2 separate regions of the Homo sapiens genome follow, and region 2 is linked to region 1. Evidence: fine-mapped expression QTL. A gene starts in region 1. The other region holds a variant in brackets. All regions are shown on one strand. Distances are between the middles of the regions. Region 1 holds the start of FAM124B (family with sequence similarity 124 member B). Region 2 overlaps FAM124B (family with sequence similarity 124 member B).

Evidence for each region. PIP is the estimated chance that this variant, and not a neighbour inherited with it, causes the effect. A credible set is the group of variants that fine-mapping cannot tell apart.
Region 2: its variant is the best candidate, but not a certain one, in a credible set for the expression of FAM124B in whole blood (TOPMed, PIP 0.65).

The regions. Positions count from the first base shown.
Region 1 is chr2:224,399,191-224,404,572 of GRCh38, forward strand. FAM124B (family with sequence similarity 124 member B) reads right to left here and starts at 2,917. Exons shown (of 2, transcript NM_001122779.2): 1 at 1,847-2,917. The coding sequence starts at 2,578.
Region 2 is chr2:224,376,878-224,382,259 of GRCh38, forward strand. It overlaps FAM124B (family with sequence similarity 124 member B), which reads right to left. Exons shown (of 2, transcript NM_001122779.2): 2 at 1,821-3,331. The coding sequence ends at 2,696. Among named protein-coding and RNA genes, the nearest start is that of FAM124B, 23 kb to the right of the region's middle. The variant A/G (reference allele first, on the strand shown) is at 2,189.

The DNA of each region.
Region 1 (5,382 bases):
TAAAGACAGGAATGATTAAAATCATGTCCCTTGCTGCACACACACATTACATTTTTGTTTGACCATGAGGTTGATTTTAAGTACTAGAGAGTCGCTAAAACTGAAAGAAATTTTAGATGCCTTGGAAATTATGGGGTTTTATAATAGGCAACTAACAGAAACAGTGCCTGTCTACCTTATGTGAGCAAGAAGGTGAATAATTTAGAAATCATTTAATATGGAATATGATTCATGTTTTATTAACAAGTCAAAGTGATGACAACAAAATTAACCAAATGGAAAGACATCTCATCTTGTAGTCTCTTATTACTTTATTCAATAGGCCTTAAGGAGCTTCTGACCATTTCTTAAGGACAGAAGCCACAGGATATTTTGCTGTGAACATGACATTCATCCCCCTGCTTGCACATTTACACACATACACTGGACTGCAGCGGCTGACCACATGAACTTTGAGGGTAGATAGATACTTCCTATCTTGGGCAAATAACTGACCCCCTGGAAAGCTCAGTTTTCTTATCTCCAAAATGGGAAAAATAGTAACTTCATAGGTTGTTATAAGTATTAAATAAAATTATCAATTTAAGAGAATCCTTAGTATAGGGCATAATATGAACAATAATAGCTAAAATTGAGTTCTTGGCACTATCTTAATTATGTACTTTATAAGTGTCAGGTCATTTCCTGTAAGTAAGTATGAGAGAGGAAGATGCTAATTCTCGGGTGCCTTTATTGTGCTAATGAAGAAACTGAGGCCCACAGTCATACAGCTACTAAGTGCCCAGGCTCACATACCATGGAAAGGCAATGCACGGCAGCTATCATGACTAAATACACACATGCTATGTTAGGTTTTCGAGGATGGTTACAAAGGAAGGCTTTAATTTCAAGTTTTTTTAAGAAAGCATTCTATCTAACTTGGTATGTGGTAAAATTTGACAGTGATGCAAGATGCTTAAAAATTAAGTCAATACGAGTTGATGGGTGCAACAAACCAATATGGCACATGTATACCTGTGTAACAAACCTGCACTTTGTGCACATGTACCCCAGAACTTAAAGTATAATAATAAAGAATAAAAATTAAGTCAATAGTACTGCAAACTTAACATCCCTAAACAAGCTCGGCCAACATAGTGAGACCCCGTCTCTAGAAATAAAATAAAATAGCCAGACATGGCGGCACGTGCCTGTAGTCCCAGCTAATCAGGAGGCTAAGGCAGGAGGATCACTTGAACCCAGAAGGTGAAGACCTCAGGGAGCTATGATGGCACCACCGCACTCGAGTCTGGGCAACAGAGGAAGACTCCCATCTCTAAAAAATAAAAAAATTAAAAATTAAAAAAACCATATCTAAACATAAGTATGACTTCAACTTCCTTAAGTCAGATTAGAAGAGCTTGTGACATTCCTGAGCCCAAAGAGTAAACAAAGGATAGGGGTATAGTTGATGGGCATTTAAACGGCAAGCCTGAGAAAGGAGGCCGATTCTTTAATAGGATTCTGATCTTTATAGTAGAATCCTGTCTGATTCTACTATAAAGTACTTGTGTCAGCTGCAAATTCATGGAATCTGAACTTTCTTATCTGTCAGATGAGATTTTATGAGATCAGTGATTCTCAACCCTGTTACAGATTACAGTCATCCAAGAAGCTGTAAAAAAGTTACCTAGGCCTGGATGTTCCCAGAGATTCGGATCAAACTGCCCTGGGGTGGGAATTTATGAAAGACCCTAAGGGACGCTAATATGCAACCAAGTCTGAGAACCACTAGCTTAGGCCCATTCCGATGTAAAATTACACAGCTCCATGAGCCTCTACAAGATCTGAGACAAAACAGAAATACCTGAAGCAGAATCTTGTTGCCATCGTAGTCCTGAGTCTGCCACCTGGTGCTGCTGATAGGCATGCATGGATTGGGTAGCAGAGGCACTAACTGGCCGATCTCTTGAACCTTAAACTGCAGCACCGAAGACTCTTTGGGGTCCACTGACATTCCCGGGGGCAGCTGCTTCAGGGAGAGCTGCAGAGCAAAGCTCTTGGAGGCATAGAGCACGAAGAAACAAAAATTGCTCTTTTGCAAGGTCGCTTCTCTCTGCAGGATCATCTCGTAGAGTCTGATGGCGTCTTCATAGTTATCAAAACTGCAGTACAGCGTCACCCTCAGGATCTCGGAGCCACAGTGCACCTGCCTCACCCCCCAGATGGGCAGCTGACTGTCCAGGCTGTAGAACTCCTGATTGGCAAAAAAGTAGGGACACAGCCTTCCCCGAGTGTCCTGGGTGGGGTAGCACTGCCATGGCGAATGCTGGAGAGAGTCCAGGACGCGAAATAGCCTATCCTCTCCCGGGCTTTCGTGCAGGAAGAGCAACACGGACATCCCTGGAAACCGGGACCGCTTGGAATGGGACTTTTCACAGTATTTCACAGGACTGGCCCGTTCAGACACCTGAAAGAGCCGGACCTCTGGGCAAATGCAATCCAGGAGCTGGTCCAGAGTCCTCTGCAGAAGGGAGCCGTGCCCAGAGTTGGCAAGAAGATGGACAGTCATGGCCAGAGGCCCCTGTGTCTCATCCATGGAGGAACTGCCTGAGGCTGACAAAGACAGCGTGTGTAGAAGGCCCACTGTTCAAGTTTCTGAAATGAATGAAGAAGCGGCCCAGCCTTCAGCCCGCCTGAAAACCTTCAGCTGCAGCGGCTACTTCTGAGCAGAGCTCTTAACCAGACTAACACGTGCTCCTGGCCACCCGTGGACTTACGGCAAGAGAAGCTCACACCAGCTCGGGTTCAGCAGCCTCCCTCTCCACACAGCAGCAGCGGGGTCACGTCATCCAGCTTGTGCATAATGTAACTGCTTGTGTTTAGCCTTTTCAGGCGTTCCCCAGGGTTTCTGCGTGACCTAAAAACCTATAATCCTGAGAAACACCCAAATGGGCGGCTCTTATAGACACTTAGTACAGGAAATGACCGGCCGAAAAGGAACATGAGTTGGCTCTGTTAGGCTGATAGCAATCTGTTTAGTTGAAAAGACATCCATTTTATCAACTTACAACGGGTTCTCATTTCCTACTTACGGTTTACAGTAGCCTGCTCCACCAATCTGAATACAATGACTTCTTGAAAACAATTCTCAAAACCTGACCCTTTGCCAGTTTTTTTTTTCCTTTGTCTCTTTATTTCATTTTGTTTCTGAACATTTTCTGCTAGGGCACGAAGAGAAGACTTTATCTAAATAATTTTGACTTCACTGAAAATTATTTGCTGTACCGAAAATTCTGAGTGTACTAAAAAGACATTGAGAAAATTAGTCTTCCTTTATTCACGCAAATTCTTTAGAAAGAGTGAGAGCTTTCCTATAATTGCTCATATAATTATAATAATAAATAATTATAATTAACAATTGTAATTATAATTTTTAGTGTCTAATGAGGATCTACTATGTACCAGTCATAAACTGTTCTAATTCTTAAAGTAATTAGTTTTGTTTTGTTTTGGAGATGGAGTCTTGCTCTGTCGCCCAGGCTGGAGTGCAGTGGCGTGATCTTGGCTCACTGCAACTTCCACCTCCCAGGTTCAAGAGATTCCCCTGCCTCAGCCTCCCCAGTACCTGGGATTATAAGTGCGCCAACACGCCCAGCTAATTTTTTTGTATTTTTAGTAGAGACTGGGTTTTGCCATGTTGGCCAGACTGGTCTCGAACTCCTGACCTCAGGTGATCTGCCCGCATTGGCCTCCCAAAGTGCTGGGATTACAGGCATGAGTCACCACACCTGGCCCTTAATGTAAATTAATTTAATCTTGCAACAAACCTATGAAGAAGAGATTACTAGCCCCAAATTACAGATGAAGAAACTGGGGCATAGAAAGGCTAGGTAACTTGCCCAAGGTCTCACAGCTAAGAAGTAGCTGAAGGATGATTTGAACCCAGGAACTTGCTGCACTGCCTCTCTGGGGCCTTGAAGTCCCAGCCTGGGTATTCTTCTTGTAAGGAAAAGATATAAAAGCAAGTTCTGGTTAAGGATCTAGATTTGCAGACTCTTGAGCTGTTGAATCTTAAACGGAATAATCTTCAATGAGAAAGTTGTCAAGCTCTAAACACTCACCCTAAATGTGTTCTAAATATTGATTTAAAAATTATTTGTGGCCACGCATAGTCGTCACGCCTTGATCCTAGTACTTTGGGAGGCCGAGGCGGGTGGATCACCTGAGGTCAGGAGTTCGAGACCAGCCTAGGCAACATGGCAAAACCCCGTCTGTACTAAAAACACAAAAATTAGCCGGGCAAAGTGGAGCATGCCTGTAATCCCAGCTACTCAGGAGGCTGAGGCACAAGAATCACTTGAATCCAGCAAGTGGAGGTTGCAGATCGCACTACTGCACTCCAGCCTGGGTGATAGAGCAAGACTCCGTCTCAGAAAATAAAAAATAATAAAAATAAATAAATAAATAAATATTTTTAAAAAATCATTTGCTCTCCTGATAGCTGTGCTCCTCAACAGGTATGAACAAGCACTTTTTCTAAACACAATTCTTTTTAAAAGAGGCAATTGGACCAGGCGAAGTGGCTCACAACTGTAATTTCAACACTTTGGGAGGCCAAAGCAGGACAATCGCTTGAGCCCAGGAGTTCCAGGCTGTGCTGACCTAAATTCATGCCACTGCACTCCAGCCTGGACAACAGAGCAAGACCCTGTCTCAAAGAAAAAAAATGTACTTCAAAAAGAGCTGTAAAAAATTAAAATAAAAGAGGCAAATTTATGAATCCTTATAATGAAACACAGTGTGACAATTTTTTACATTAAAAAATACTTTTGTGATGAAAAATATAACAACTTTATATATCTGGATTCCTTTAATAGTATAACAACCTAATTTAAAGTAAAATATTATTATCCAAGAAAAGGAGTTATTTCTATTCAGATTCACTATGTAAATCTAACGTACAATTCTAATCATTTGTGTTTCATAATTCCTGTACTTTTTGCATGGGAAAAATACATAAATACAATTTATAACAGAGGAATTGTTTCCTAGTTATTGTGAGCAGCTCAGTAATTAAATTCATCTTGTTTCAACTTTTAAAAAAATCATTAGAGGTTTTTTTTTTTGGCATTACAAATCTCAAGCTTTTTTAAAAAAAACTCGACAGCATTCATGTTATGCATTGGCATTGGAAGCAGATAACTATCTCATCTCTCAGTGTGAACACTCTCCCTTCCGCAACCCTTCCATTCACAGAGCTGATTGTACTTTAGACAAAACTATAGTTTTTGAAATAGGCTTTGAAATTCTGGAAATAACTCTAAAGATTTGAGGAGAAAAATTGTTCCCCTGAAACCACGATATTAACTCACAACATTTTGCACAAGGTAAGTATTAAAG
Region 2 (5,382 bases), 22 kb before region 1:
TTTAAACTGTGGGTCCGAAGGACCAATGGTATTAATAATACACTATATTATATAATATACAATATAATACAATAATCATAAAAAACTCACACATTTATAATGCTTCATGAAATCCAGATGCTTTCATATACAACATCTTGATTCCCCTAACAATCTTTTGTTACAGTTGATAAAGCAACAGAGGACAAAGGAGCCTGACATGCTCAAGGTCACATCAATAGTAAATTTAAAAGTGAAACCAAAATCTGGGCCTCCCCACCCAGTTCACTGGTATTTCCATCCCATCATGTTGTAAATTGAATTCCTGTGTTGAGTAGTGTGATGGTTAATATTGAGGGTCAACTTGATTGGATTGAAGGATGCAAAGTATTGTTCCTGGGTGTGTCTGTGAAGCTGTTGCCAAAGGAAATTAACATTTGAGTCAGTGGACTGGGAGAGGCTGACCCACCCCCAGTCTGGGTGGGCACCATCTAATCAGCTGCCAGCGTGGCTAAAATAGAGCAGGCAGAAGAATGTGGAAGGACTAGACTGGCTGAGTCTTCTGGTCTTCATCATTCTCCTGTGCTGGATGCTTCCTGCCCTTGAACATCAGACTCCAAGTTCTTCAGCTTTGGACTCTTGGACTTACACCAGTGATTTGCCAGGGGTTCTAGGGCCTTCGGCCATAGACCGAAGGCTGCTCTATCAGCTTCCTTACTTTTGAGGTTTTGGGACTTGGACTGGCTTCCTTGCTCTTCAGCTTGCAGACAGCCTATTGTGGGACTTCACCTTGTGATTGTGTGAGTCAATACTCCTTAATAAACTCCCTTTCATATATACATCTATCTATCCTATTAGTTCTGTTCCTCTAGGGAACCCTGAATAATACAAGTAGGATAGAATAGATGACATTTTAAGGGTATATTATTTTACAAGTCAATTTTGTAAGGTGCCTGATTCACATTTCTCAATATTCTTTATAATTTTCAGGTACTTTTATTCTTACCCATGTATTATATTAAGAAAATTTAGATAACATCAAAAAAAAAGTGGGAAGGAAATTTCAAAACTTCTTCCTGCTGTGCTTATTCAAAGTTCAGTAGTTCAACTTCCTTTTTTGTTTTAACTCTTATTATAGAAAGCTATACCAAAGTTAAGCTCTTCATCCCGTTTTCTAAAATCAAATTGTAGTCTAGGGGAGAGAGAGACAAAATGGGAATGAGAATATGTTGATGTTTTAAGGACAAAAAATATCAATTGAGGAGTCTTGTCTTTGTCCATTTACAACTCTCCTCCGTTTCTATCCCTTTTGCGGAGAAGAGCACCCAAAATCAGCCTAGACTCACTTTTGCAAGATTTGACTTTAGGACTGAACTCATCTCTGTCTCCAGTTAGGTGTAGTAAGTCTCCAAGTCTCCAAAAGATCCAGCTAAATCAACATTTACACTCTTATGTAACATCTGTTCTGAGAGTGAAGTTCGTGGAATTGAATAACCTTATAAATGAACTGAAACACAGGCCTCGGGATTTTTAAACATGTGTGTACAGACATATCCAAAAAATTCAGCATATGGGCAACGAGAATTTGTCCATTGCAATTATAATTGCAATTCATAATATGCCCAGTCTCCATCTGCAGGTTGCAAATGCTTATTACACCATTATGTGGCCAGTGTGGGCCTCAACTGTGGAAAAAGTTTTTGGAGGAATATATTTGGAATTCAGTATCTTTTTAAAAGTTGGTAGAATGAATTTATCAGAGTGGTGAAACCATAAACACTTTTTGGGTTTCATGGCCCCAGAATGTATATGTACCATATACACAATGTCTTATTCAAATGTAGGTATTCAAAAAATGTTTATTGAATGAACATATATAAATGAATGAATGAGTGCGTTTTGTAAAGGAATCTGGGAGTCAAAATCTGGCCAGAAGAACCCAAGTCCTGCTCCAGTGACCAGATCAACCAGTCCAATTTTCCCACTGTGCTCAATGTTCCTCTTTGGTTTGTAACAAGAACCACTGTCCTCTTTGACATAGTGCAGAAACAAATGAGAAGCAGATGAGCAGGAAAGCCCTAGAGCCTAGCATTCATGTTCAACCTGATTTTCTGGCTTCCAGTATTTTGGCTCATTAAACAGGAAAACAAAATTAACTGTTTATAATTTTCAAAACACTTTGCATTTTCACTCATTCCAGATACAAACA[A/G]CTTTAAAGACAAAATCACAAGGAGGGTATGTGAACAAGGCCTAGTTACCAAAAGAGGTCACATGAAAATTAAAAAGCATTCAAGAGTAAATAGCAGTCCATATTGTCCAGGGGGATGAGCTATGCAACCTAAGTAAAAATTAAAACCAAATTACAGACACTAATTAGTGTTGTATAACATACCGATTCATTTGCATACAATGCAATTATCCTGATAGGTGCTGGATTCAACACATCCAGCTGGGTTAGTGCATCTCCACGGAACAAAAGCATTCGGTTTTTTTCCCTGTGTGTTGGCTGTGTTCTCTTATGACTGTGACGGCAAATAAACAATCATTCCCAGCACCTTTAGACTTTGAACATTTGAAATAAAATCAATACAGATTGTGCATGGGGAGCATTCAGCCCCCCTCAGATGAACAACTAACAGGCTGATTCTGGGTCAGTACTCCATTTCTAGAACATTTTATCTGATCTTGTGTTTTAGAAAACCACATTTATTTTATGCTATATAAAGAATTCTTCTTCATCTTCTTCTTTTTCTTCACCCTGAACTTGCAGATGAAGGAGACATTCTGAAATTGTCTTCCTGGTACCAAGGTCCCTTTGGCCAGCAAGTGGCAAAGGAGAGACTCTTTCCTTAAGGACACTGTTGTTTTTGGAGGTAGCCACCCCCAAGGAAGAGGCTGGCAAGCAGAATGGTGGCTGGCTGGTCTGTAAATCCCTTGGAAATCCGCCAAAATAAGTCTGCCTGGGTTCAGAATTTATGATGGTCAAGCCGGTGTCAACATTCGTCTCGGCCTCAAGCTTCTGAAAGCTGTTTTCCCGGTTGAGGACCTTCATTCTGGCCCCGGATTCAAGGTGATGAGAAGACAGGTGCAGGTGGGCACCCATAGCTGGGCTGCTGACCTGGAATGACCGGCCAGGGCTTTTCCACGAAGTGCCAGCACACCTGTCTGATGTGGGGCTCCCACTGGGCTCAGGAAGCTCCAGAGAATGCCCCTGGGACCTCTTGCCCTGGTTCCTCTGGCTCCTGGGTTCTGAGGTCCTCTTTGCAGAGACAGAAGTCAGCCTGGAGCCCAGGGGAAGCATGCCAGCTCCCAAGATGCCATTCTTAACACCAAGTTCTGGATTCAGCTGAACCTACAGGAAAGGAAAGGAGGAACATATGAAACATAATTTCCATTAACTAAGTGCCAAGAGCTGACTATGCCTTATTCACCCTCTGCCATGCCATGCCCATAGCAGACTTTCAGTAAATTTGGTTGAATTGAATAGAAGTGATAAGTACAATATAATTATGAGATATCTAATCAGACCCAGCCCCAAATACCTCTCTTTGGGACTCCCTAAATTAAGTTTTTGACAAGGGTAAGACTTTGGGAATCAAATGGCCAATTGACAACACCACACTTCTGGTAGAGCAAGTTGTTCAAACAATGCAGACATTCACAGATGTCATTCAGTGACCTCACTGGATGTTGTAAATGATATATTTATTAGCAACCATGTAAAAAAAGAAATTTAGAAAGCCACCAAACCATGTGGTTAAAGTTAAGATAAGGATTGAAGTAAGAATTCAATCTTCCAAAGCTGGTGATCCTTCTTTTAGATCATGCTAATAAAAATACATATCTTGGGCCATTCTAAGACATGTGACCACTCCAGACGGCTAATAATTTGGCAGCAATATTCTTTAAATTCTTGGGGCACCATTTATTTAGATTAGAGGCCTGGTATTGCATGAGAAAACAAAAAGGGGGCATGGCTTATATGGAAGTTTAGGTGTTTTCATCCTTAGCAATTCCACTCTGGTTACAAACTTACAGACACCACTCAGCAAAACCCTCACCCTGCAGTTGACTGCACTCTCCCTCCACAGGATGGAGTTCACTGACCCCCCTTTAAGACTTCCACCCTTGGGAGCCTTGCATCCTATTCCATGCACAACACTCTTCCCAAGAAGATTTCTGGAAAAAGGCAATTTTTTCCATTTTGATAACAGCCCTTGGAAATTTGTATCCAGGATCCATCCCTACCTGGCCCAGCCCTTAATCAAATATCAAGAAGAATGATACGGAAGAACTTGCAATAAATACTACTAACTGAAAGAAGCCTATCTGGGCTCATGCCTGTAATCCTAGCCCTTTGGGAAGCTGAGGTGGGAGGACTACTTGAGGCCAGGAGTTCAAGACCAGCTTGGGCAACTAGCAAGACCCCATCTTTACAAAAAATAAAAACATCAGCCAGACGTGTGGTCCATACATATAGTCCCAGCTATTCAGAAGGCAGAAGAGGGAGGATCCCTCGAGCCCAGGAGTTCGAGGTTAAATTGAGTTATGACTGCACCACTGCACTCCAGCCTGGGTGACAGAGAGAGACTATATGATGCCAACTATATGACACTTTGGAAAAACCAAAACTATGAAGACAGTAAAAAAATCAGTGGTTGCCAGGGGTTGGGGGGAGGGAGGGATGACTAAGTGGAGCAGGAGGACTTTAGGGCAGTGAAAACTACTCTGCATGATACTGTAATGGTGGATGCACATCCTTATACATTTGTCCAAACCCACAGAATGTACGACACCAAGAATGAACCCTAATGTACCCTATGGGCTTTGGGTGATGGTGATGTGTCGTTGTAGGTTGATCAGTTGTAACACATGTACCACTCTGATAAAGGATGTTGACAGGAAAGGAGGCTCTTTTCGGGGGGAAGGTTGTATATGGGAACTCTCTGTTCTTTCTGCTTAATTCTGCTGTGAACCTACCACTGCTGTAAAAAATAAGGTCTATTTCAAGGGAGAAAAAATAATGATACATATTTATCTTACAAGGCAAGAAGGCAGAAATGAGGACAGTGAGAAAACAGGTCTAGAAATCAGTAAATTCTCTCTCTCATACACACACACACACACTCACACAGAGCATATTTGTTTGTATAGATGACGCAGAGTACATCTCAATTTTCTGATAGAAATGGTGAGGTGCATATTACCAAGCTGCAAAAACAAACACACAAAAAAACAAGGACTTCCACTGATTCTTTTAGAATAGAAGTTGGCAAATATTTTCGGCAAGGAGCCAGACAGTAAATATCTGAGGGTTTGCCGGCCATATGGTCTTTATCCCAACTATCCAACTCTGCTGCAGAGCAGCCATAGACAATATATAAATGAATGGCTGTGTTCAGT